2 separate regions of the Homo sapiens genome follow, and region 2 is linked to region 1. The links come from fine-mapping of genetic effects on gene expression. A gene starts in region 1. The other region holds a variant in brackets. All regions are shown on one strand. Distances are from middle to middle. Region 1 holds the start of EPN1 (epsin 1). Region 2 holds the start of U2AF2 (U2 small nuclear RNA auxiliary factor 2).

Region 1 (5,358 bases):
TATTCTCGTCTGATTCTGTAGCTAAGGTCAACCCACAGGCCCCATGGGGGCAGAGAACATGTCTGTCTGCATGTGGCTTTTCCCAGCAAAGAAGCTGGCCCAGAAAAACCATTCAGTAAACCATGCAAGGAGGAAGTGGAGAGGGAGGGCAGGAAAGACCTCTGGAACAAGGGCAGAGGGGGCAGGAATCCACAGCAGAAACAAGGACACATGGGAAAGAAGGCTGATGAAGGGATTAAAGACAGAGGCAGGAGCAGGGAACCAACCCAGGGCGGCAGGAAGAACCGGGGAAGCCAGAAGACCAGACGTCCCAAGGATAGCGGAAGCCCAAGGCTCAGGAGAGATAAGGAACCTAACAGCCCCACTGCCTGGGTCCCTGCTGTGTGCCAGGTGCTCGCTCAGCACAAGAGGGACATTACCTTTTTCAACACTGCATGCAAAGACTGGGCTCCTGGAAGTTAAATAATTCAACCAAGGTCACACACCAGGAATGGCAGGGCAGACTCAACCCGAGGCCCACCTGAACTCCAAAACTCATACTTTTAAATTAACCTAAATTAAATTAACCCATCCCGAGACTGGTGACGAGAAACAAGAGAGTCAAGCAAATGATGATGACACCAGCAGACACTCGCACTGCTCTTATCCCATGCCAGGCACTGTTTTAAGTGCTTTACATGTATTAACTCAGTTAATCCTTGAAACAACCCCATGATTCATAGCCACCTCACAGGGTGGAAACTGAGACACAGAGGTTCAGCCCCTTGCCCAGGGACACACACCTTACTCCTGGAGCAGCCTGGTTCCAGAGCCAGCTCTGATCACCCATCTATGCGGCTCCAAGAAGCCACAGAGGGAGATTTTCAAAGCCCCGCCATGATGTAAGCCCAGGGGAGATAGGGATGACGGAGAGAGGCTGGCCTCTGCTTCCACCTCAGGCCAGAAAGCCAGGCACCTGAAGACAGATGTAGCTAGTTAAAAAGTAACTCTCTGGAGTCCCAAAACAGCCCCAGCCTAATACATTAAGATGAAGAGATGATGTAACAAATGCAGAGAAGGGGACTGAGAAGAAATAGAAGACAGTTCTGACAGAAAGAGACACATAGAAACCTGGGCAGAGGGAGCTAGGCAGAGACACAATGAGAAAAACACAGGCAGCAGCAGATACAAGAACATGGGAAGACAGGGAGGCAGGAGGCCAAGGAAGAAAGAGGCCCAGAAACAAAAAGAGACCTGGCGCTGAGAAATAAGAGATAAGAAAAATGGAATCTAATGGCAAAGAATATAAAATGTGGGTTCAAATCCTGGCCACATCAGCTACCTGCAGCGCACACCTCCTTGAGACACAGTTTGCTCAACTCTGAAATGAAAGAATTCCTACCTGGTAGGCCTGTTGATTAAATAAGATGGGTACATGCAGTGCTTGGCTCTGTGCCCCACAGATAGTAGGCGCTCAATAACACTGGCTGCTATTATTATCAGAGAAAAAACAGAGAACATTTCCAAAAGGGTGGCGGCAGAAAAGGCACTATCTTAATACTCTGTACTTATTTGGCGTGCATTAGAAAAAATTACCCAACTAGCACATCAAAGCTGAGATTTCTCAGATACTGCTTAGAATGAGACTGTATTTCAAATTAAATTGATTCAAAGAGAATTCTTACATTAAAAAGAATACAAAGGATATGGCAAAGTTCTCCAAGGAGTACTCCAATAACCGACCGATATCTAACACTTACTGTGTAAAAATCTCTAAGCACTGTAATAATAAAAACCAGAGCTCCCAGTAATTACACACTTGCTATGTGTCAGATACCGTCAGGCACTTTACAAGCATCACCTCAACTTACATGCACAAGGACCCTATGATGTAGGAACTACGAATGCCTACGAACTATGGATTTCCTACGACTAGGAAACTGAGGTTTTGACACAGAGACTATCACCTGGCAATTACACAGCTTAGCAGGCAGCCGGGCTTCTGAATCCAAGGCTGGGGCTCTTCACCATCACACCAGAGACTCAGAAAACTGGGGAAAAGGGGCAGATTCTAGATCAAGTTAACAGACTCCTGGAAAGAAACTTCAGGATTGGAGGTGATAGGTATGGGGGCAAAACTCAGATGCGAAGACGGGGCGGGGGTAAGATTTGCACCATAGGCAGAAAAGCCCGCAGGGAAGGGCTAGAGACACCTAGGGAAAAGAAGACTCGGAAACTCAACGAGACACGAACAAATCCTGACAGACACAGACACGACAGACAGAGGAGAGAGAGACCCGGGACAGACACACAAACACACTCCTATCTCCAAACCCTTTTCTAAGTTCACTGAAACAGGCACAGGCAGAGGCCCACAGGAAACAGACGCTGACAGACACACAGACACGAGAGAGACAGACACAGACAACCGACACGGGGGCAGTCAAGGCCGACACAGGAGCAGAGACACAAAGGCCGCCAGAGACACCCAGAACTGGCCAGACGCGAGCCCGCGCGCGCCGCGGCCCAGGCCCGAACACCCGGAGCAGGCGGGCCAGCGTCCCCCGCGCTCCGCCCCGCGCTCACCTCGGCCCCCTCACGCCGGGCTCTGGGGGGTCATGGCGGTCAGCCCCCTGCCCCGCTCGGCCTCGGTGTCGCGGGACGTGCGCCGGGCCACGGGCGCACGCACGAACGCAAGGAGGGCCGCACGCCGACGGCTCCGCCGCCCCGCCGCCCAGAAGGGGCGCGGAGAGCCGGGCGGGGGAGGGGAGCCGCCGAGGAGACGGGAAGCAACAGAAGGAGGCGACGGACCGGAAGCGGAAATTGCCGCGCTCCCCGCCCTCCCGTGCCGCACCCCGCCCTGGCAGGAGTCGCTTCCGCAGCCAAGCCAACCTGGAAGGCATCACTTCCGGCGCGCTGGGCCCCGTTGCTAGGCGCCTCTACGTCACTTCCGCCCGCTGCAGCGGGGGATCCGCGCGGTGCTCACGGAACGCCGAGAGTCAGCTCCAGCTCGCTTGGCGGCAACCGCGGAGCTCCTGGCACACCCACGCCACGCCCGCCCCGGCCCGCTCGGCCACCATCCCTCCTGTCGGCGGGGTGGGAGAGCACTCGGGAACCTCACGTCCCCCGGGGCTGTGCCTGTGCCGACCCCGAGAAGGGCACCGCGCAAGCAGGGAAGGCCTCGAGGCTGCCGGCGCCGGCAGCAGGGGCGTCCCAGCCAGGGGCCCGCAGTTTGCCAAGGGAACCCCCACCCGAGCCCAGAACCGAGGAAGAGGGTCGGACATACTGGACACACAGCCGCTCCATAAAGTAAAATACAACAAAATGTTTAATGAGCAAATTCGTCTTAGCAAATATGAAACTGCCACAGAGAGTAGGAGAGGGGCAGGGGCCACGGGGCTGGGCGCAGGTCGGGGGAGACTAAAGAGGAAAAATCAACTACGTAAGAAACCCAGGAGGGGACCAGAGAGGACCAGAGGCCGAAGGAACAGAGCTGTGGTCCTGGTAAGGGAGAGGGCAGGGCACTGAGGGCCGGACAACAAAATTCAAAATAGTTTGGCCATAAAATATAAACACGCTATGTTCCTACCGTGGGGAAGGGGAGAAGAAAGGGGTCTATGGGAGAAGGAGAGGCTGTTTTGGGAGGGGCTGGGGTCCTACCCCGCCCTGCTGTGCACCCTGTCCCCATCCCAACCCCTTCCCTCTGTGTCTGTGTGGGTGCGTGTTGTCTGTGTGGGCTGTGTGCGCACTTCCCCAGTCCCCTCCCTGCCCTAACCCCCCAACCCCCCAACCCCCGCCCCCCACCCTTAATTGCTGCCATTCCAGTTGCTGCCGGCTGTCGTGTGTCTGCGGCTGTCACTCCTCTGCCCATCGTCTTCAGAGGGGGATAAGGGGGGGGCGGGAGTGGGGAGAAGCCCCCAGCCAGCCCTGCCCCCACCCTCCCCCAGCCGCCTCTACCAGAAGTCCCGGCGGTGATAAGAGTCGGGGTCACAGTATTTTGTGACAACCACTCTGTTGGCGAACTTGCGGCCCGTCAGGCCCTGCATGGCTTTCTGGCAGTCAAACACAGAGGTGAACTCCACAAAGATCTGTGGGGAAAGGAGAGGCAGGTTTGTGAACAAGGCTCACGCCCAACAGCCAGTCAGCGTCCACCCAACCCCAGCACTGAAGGCAGGAAGGGACAGGGAGGAGGGGGCTTCGCCACAGGTGTCAGAAAGGGACCCTTAGTAAGCAGGTTTGGTGGAGTTCACCCAAATATTCTCCAGGATCAAAAAACAAGAGCATAAACACACCATAGGCATGGAGAGGGAGAAAGAATAGAGACATGCCAGAAACTCAGCAGAGCCATAGAGCGCAGGCGGGAGGCCTAGACGAGCTCACCGCGGGGGAGGGGTCCCTCGTGCTGAGTGTCTACTCCACACGAGCCACCATGGTGGGCGCTCCCAGAACCACCCCAACAGCCATGTTCTCCCAACAATAAGTGAACTAAGGGAAGCTCAGAAATTAGGATTCAAACCCAGGTTGAATAAAATTTAAAAACTTGAACCTTGATCTATTCGAGCTTCTAACCTTGCTTAAACCAATTTACAGGAAAATGGAGGGAGGGAAGGATACAATGAGCCTACACGAACACTGAAAATTCTATATAGCAGATGAACTTATTTCTTCTACAAATAAAAGAGCTTGCAAAAAAAAAAAAGAGGGAGTGAGGTACAAAGGATAAATTACACAAACTTTGTAACCAAATTCAAGGCAGGGACCTGATATGGATCCTTACTGAAACAAACTATAAAAAATATCCTCGGCTGGGCACAGTGGCTCACGCCTGTAATCCCAGTACTTTGGGAGGCTGAGGCAGATGGATCACCTGAGGTCAGGAGTTCAAGACCAGCATGGCCAACATAGCGAAACCCCATCTCTACCAAAAATACAAAAATTAGCCAGACATGATGGCGGGTGCCTGTCCCAGCTACTCTTCTTTAACTCGGGAGGTGAAGGATGCAGTGAGCCGAGATTGCGCCACTGCACTCCAGCCTGGGTGACAGAGTGAGGCTCCGTCTCAAAAAAAAAAAAATTATTGGCCGGGCGCGGTGGCTCACGCCTGTAATCCCAGTACTTTGGGAGGCCAAGACGGGCGGCTCACAAAGTCAGGAGATCGAGACCATCCTGGCTAACACGGTGAAACCCTGTCTCTATTAAAAATACAAAAAAAATTAACCAGGTGTGGTGGCGGGCACACTGCACTCCAGCCTGGGCAACAGCGAGACTCTGTCTCAAAAAAAAAAAAAAAAATTCTTGAGATAGAAAAATTTGAACATGGAATAGGCACTAAGGAATTTCGCTAATCTAATCATGCTATTGTGGTTTTGTTAAAAAAAC
Region 2 (5,358 bases), 21 kb after region 1:
CTCAAAGAACCGCCCAATCAGCTCCACTTGGTCCAGCAGAGTGGAACTTGGCCTTGCAGCCAGAGCTCAGAATCAGTACCTGCTTTTCTGCTTATGAACAACAAAAACCATGCAAAAGCAACTTAGCCTTTAAGACTTGGTTTTCTCTTTAAACGAGGGTCGTATCTACTCCATCCAGGTGTTGTGTGGCAGAATGACATTTGGAAAGCACCTTTTCCTGCCCTTTCCCAACTCTGACACAATCTCTGTGAGCGGAAGACCCTCCTCTCTAAGCATGGAATTTTACAATTGCAAATATCGCTTACTGCACACCCAGTGTACGCAAAGCCACATGCCACACACTTTACATGTTACCCCATTTAATCTCAGCTCTGCCTCTGACTAGCTGAGCCCTGAGAAAGTTTTTAACTTTTCTGAGCCCTCAGTTTCCTCCCCAGTAGAGGTGGAAATCATTTTGGCCTCACAAGGCTGTTAAAAGGATCCACTTAGTAAAACATGCTAAGAGTTTAGCGAAGAGCCTGGCACACGGTAAGCGCTCAGAGTTTAACTACATCTATCGTTACTATCATCCTTTTTAATCTTCTCAAAATCCGGTAACAAGAAAATAATAATCAGTCTACAAATGGAAAAAAATATATAAACGTATTAAAAGCAGTTACTAAACGACAAAGCAGGTATCTAAACTTCCTGATGTGCTCAACTCCAAAGCCTATGCTCTTGAGCAGTCCATCAACTAAGACAGAGTCAGACCCTCAGTAAACGTTATTGCTTCCCCAGGACACTGTTTCCTAATACAGCCCCTACCCAACTCTAGCCCGGGTTCAAAGGAAAATTCCTCAGCCCTCATTTCGTCCTCCGAACGAGCTAGGAACATGGGCAGCTGAAGCCTGAAAAGAAACAAGTCTCCAATCTTCCCTGGTCCTGTATTTCTTCACAAACTGAAACACGGAGGATTTTTAAAGCGTCTTAACAACTCTCCCACTTCTAATATTATTGGAATCCCTAAGATCAGGGCCCCAGGCTTTTTGTTCTAACCCATCACAATTTTCGATACCCTGAAGGGAACCTGCCTCCCACCTTCCCCGTAAGTGAAGAGTTTAGCGCAGTGGGCCAGATCCCTCTTCCTCCCTCAGAACCTGTTTTCTTATCTCTATATTGAGATCTGAGACTGAGTATTATCAGGTGCCCTGAGATTGGGATTGTAAATGATTTGAGGTTTGTCTCAAACACTCCATATCGCGATTCTCGGGACCGCCAAAAGCCCCGCATATGCAGGATGTGTGCGTGCGGACACTCAAAGAATGCAGATGCTTTTAGGCAACATGTGCCAAACACGTTAATATGAGGCGCCCCACTACCAACAGACGGGGCAGAAACCACCTGGCGGGAGAGATCAGAGCAAATCAGCAAAAAGGAAAAGGGGTACGCGAGGGGCCCGTGGCCTCCAAGCATCCGCCGAAACGGCTCTGCCCTCATCCACGTGAAGGAAGGAAAGGGGCCCCCCCACCAAGTTCTCACAACCGCCATTTTGGAAACAAAGGGGGCGTGGAGACGCTGCCGTGGGCCCGACCGGAAGCGGAAGTGCCAAGGCAGCGGGAGAAAAGAGATTACGGGGACTAACATAATCTCCTTTTCAGAGAAACCAAAAAGATTTTAAAAAACAAAAGTTCACGTCGAGGCATCTGGCGCGCTCGTGCCGCGTCCCCCGCGCCACCTCCGCCAGGACCACGTGGGGCGCAGGGACAGCCGCCGTGCGCATGCGTCACGGGCCCGCGCCCCGCCGCCCCCTTCCCCTCGCCTAGCGCGCGGCGGAACGCTGGGGACGTCACGTGAACGAGGCGCGCGCCACGGAACCAGGGTTGGGGGGCGCCGCGCGGCCGTGAAGTGGGGGGAAGCGAGGGAGAAAATGGCGGGGGGGCAAAGAGCGACGCGAGGAGCCGCCCACACCTCCGCCCCGCGACCCCGGTGCCCTCACCTTGTTTATTCTCGTTGAGCTGCCGCTCGAACTCGTCGAAGTCCGACATGCTGAGGCGGCCGCGTAGGGCCCTGTGCAGCTTTCGCCTCGCCTTGCCGCCCGCTCCAGCCGCTTCGGCTACTTCCGCCGCTGGCTTCGGCTACTTCCGGCCGCCGCCGGCGCTTCGCCACCTCCTACCTAATCAAGCCTCCGGCAGCCCTCCCCGCCCCGCCCGGGCTCCGCCCCCTCACCCGCCCGCCCGCCCGCGAGCTTGCCCCTCCCCCCGAGCCTGGCTCCGAAGCGCCTCGGCTATCTCCGGATACTGGACGAAGGCGAAGCAGGCGGCCGCTTCGGCTGCTTCCGAAAACACCCGAACGTAGGGTTTCGCCGACTTCCCAGGTTTCCGTAACTTTTCCGAGATTATCTCCTCAACGTTCGGAGGTTTCCGTGTGTCCTCGTGTGCCACTGCGCCCAGTCCCCTCTGCGAGTTCGGGTTCTTCCAACAATTCAATCCGTCCCAGTCTTTGGCTTCTTCCACGGACTTGCTCCGATCTTCTCCGCCGGCCCTGTCCAAGCAATCGGCCACTTCCGACAATCCTAA[C/T]CGTCCCGGCCTTCGGCTCTTTCCGGAGATTTCCGGATCTCGCCCTCGGGCCCCTCCTGGGATTAAGCTCGAGTCCGTGTTTCGGCTCTTTCCGGAGATGCCACTTGCTCACGCCTCCGATCAGAGAACTTCGGCTCCTTCCGCCACCGCTTCGTGAAGGCCTCACTCTCCGGGGACAGCTTCGACTTTTTCCGTGGGTACCTCGGCTCCTTCCGGCTTCGGGAACGGAAAAGGGAAGGAGAACAGAGACGAGATGGATCAGGGGAAGGGATAGAGAAGGGGACGAGGTCCTAGTTCTCGGCACCTGGCTCTCCGGGTGGGGAAAGTGAAAGAAAAAAAGGGCCGGCCTCGCGGAGGGCCTGAGAAGGTTGTGCCAGACAAAAGCAGCAAGAGGGATGAAGGGTGCGCGCGACCGCTGCGGAGGTTGCCAGCGCGGCTTTTTGCGCCTGCGCAGGGTGGAAGCCGCGGGTGAGGGGAAACAGGCTTCTGCGCCTGCGTAAAAGTCGTTCTGTGGCGCGCTCTCCCACTGCTCCCGTGAAGGGGGTTGCGGGGACCAGGTTTCAGTCCCCATTGCGCGTGCGCGAGATTTCCCTTACAACGGTGAAAGTGCTTAATCCCCAGCCGTTAAATCCGGCCACCCTCTTGGTTGTCTCGGCAACCACATCAACGCGCTCCGGCTCTTCCCGCCGCGCAGGCGCGGCAGACGGATCATCTGGCATTACTTCCGGGAGACAGATGATCTGGCGTTACTGCCCCCTGGCGGCCCAACGGAAGTATCCTCCAGACTTGGCCTGGCCGCTAGGTGGCCTCCCTCGCTAGAGGTCATCGACTCACGCCTCTCGCGCCGCGCTCCGGTCTGGGTAGCCCAGCGGGTAGTGTCCACGCTTCTTTTTACTTTTTTTTTTTTTTTTTTGAGACGGAGTCTCTGTCGCCCAGGCTGGAGTGCAGTGGCGCGATCTCGGCTCACTGGAACCTTCGCCTGCCGGGTTCAAGCGATTCTCCTGCCTCAGCCTTCCAAGTAGCTGGGACTACAGGCGCCCGCCACCACACCTGGCTAATTTTTTGTATTTTTAGTAGAGACGGGGTTTCACCGTGTTAGCCAGGATGGTCTCGATCTCCTGAACTCGTGATCCGCCTGCCTCGGCCTCCCAAAGTGCTGGGATTACAGGCGTGAGCCACCGCGCCCGGCTGTGTCCGCGCTTCTTTTCCCGAGCTCTGCCTCCGAGTTTTCTGGGGCGCAGCTGCTTCACTCTCCATCTCTGCCTCCGGGGGGCTAATTACACCGTATCCTACCCGTCCTCCCGCCTGACCACCCACCCCCTTGGAAGCCCCCGCAACCCCGTCACCGTCTTCGGGGCGACGGCCGCCCCCTCCCAGGCACGTCCCCCTCCTAGGAAGAGGCTGAGGCCAAGTTTATTCCAAATTTTCACGTCGTTTTTTAATTTAAATTATCTGAATAATTCTCTGTCTCACGCGGAGTTGGGGAGGTCTGTCCGGGAATCAGGTGGGCAGCTCCTCCGCGGGGCCAGGGCGGAGACGGGGTCTGTACAGTCCCCCACTCGAGGGGGGGGCACCCGCCTGCCTGGTTTTCCAGGAGGAAGGGGCCCGGCGAGGACAGGGCTGGGCAGCCCAAGCGGAAGGGGGTGCCGGCGTTCGGGAAGGGGCCGCGGCCGGTCCGGGGCCGTCGCGCTTGGGGGCCCGGCTAAGGGAGCCCCCAACCCAGGGAGCGAGGAGGAGGGGCAGGGGCGCGGCGGGGAGAGGGGCAGGTCATCCACCGGGGTCCACGGGGGAGGAAGGCCCGGGTGGAGGCGCGGAGGCGTGGTGCGATCACCGCTTGAAGCGGTAGGTGATGGGCAGCAGCAGCTTGCTCTTCTTGAGCGCCTGCACCTTCTTGAGCGTCTCGTCGTCCAGGGCCAGAAAGCAGCGGCGGGAGTACTCGAGCAGGCGCTCCTTGGAGGGGTCGAACTCGCCCACCTCGGCCAGCTTCTCGGGGGCCACAATGAGCAGCTCGGCGATGGGCGTGGTCAGCGCCACGGTGTTCCTGTCCACGCGGTGGTGCTCGAAGGCCCGCGACATGCTCTTGAGCTTCTGGAAGGTGCCCAGGATCTTCTTGTACCGGCAGAGGACCCCGTCGGCGTCCTTCACTGAGGGGTGGAGGCGGGGACACGAAAGTGAGGGGCAGGGCACAAGACTGAGGGGGCGGACACGGGAAGGGAAACGGCCATGGGAAGAAAGGATCTCGGCGAGCAGAGGCACGGGCCGGTGCAGGTGGAGACGGAGAACAACAGGCAAGGAAGGGGCAGAGAGGAGGGGAAGAATCGCAGCCAGATCTTGGACCAGTGGGAAATGGGAAGAGGCAGGCCCAGGAAGGAGAGTGAGGAGACAAAATGAGCCAAGAGGCCGGGTTCAACCCACGCGGTCCCAGCACCCCCCGACACCCCGAGCCATCACCCTCGTCTCCCTGCCTCAGGTGAATTCACTTATTCAAGTCTCACCCTCCCCGTGAGGTAGGTCCTACTGCGCACCTCCTCCTTACTGATGAAAGTTAAGGAGGTGCCCAAGGTGGCCCTGCCCTCGACGGTGGACCAAAACTTAAAAGTAAACCCAGGACAGGCCATGCGCGGTGGCTCACGCCTGTAATCCCAGCACTTTGGGAGGCCGAGGCAGGTGGATCACGAGGGCAGGAGATCCAGACCATCCTGGCAAACACGGTGAAACCCTGGCCTCTACTAAAAATACAAAAAATTAGCCAGGCGTGGTGGCGGGTGCCTGTAGTCCCAGCTACTCGGGAGGCTGAGGCAGG

The links.
Region 2: its variant is fine-mapped to the expression of EPN1 in whole blood (INTERVAL, PIP above 0.99).

The regions. Positions count from the first base shown.
Region 1 is chr19:55,672,643-55,678,000 of GRCh38, reverse strand. EPN1 (epsin 1) reads right to left here and starts at 2,775. Exons shown (of 11, transcript NM_001130072.2): 1 at 2,566-2,775. U2AF2 (U2 small nuclear RNA auxiliary factor 2) reads right to left here. Exons shown (of 12, transcript NM_007279.3): 12 at 3,285-4,067. The coding sequence ends at 3,933. RefSeq lists an enhancer at 1-82 and silencers at 4-298, 2,494-2,823, 2,994-3,213.
Region 2 is chr19:55,651,771-55,657,128 of GRCh38, reverse strand. CCDC106 (coiled-coil domain containing 106) reads right to left here. Exons shown (of 5, transcript NM_001370470.1): 5 at 3,968-4,699. The coding sequence ends at 4,383. U2AF2 (U2 small nuclear RNA auxiliary factor 2) reads right to left here and starts at 2,094. Exons shown (of 12, transcript NM_007279.3): 1 at 1,976-2,094. The coding sequence starts at 2,024. RefSeq lists enhancers at 1,269-1,348, 2,299-2,968 and silencers at 1,709-1,848, 2,059-2,108, 2,199-2,248. The variant C/T (reference allele first, on the strand shown) is at 2,556.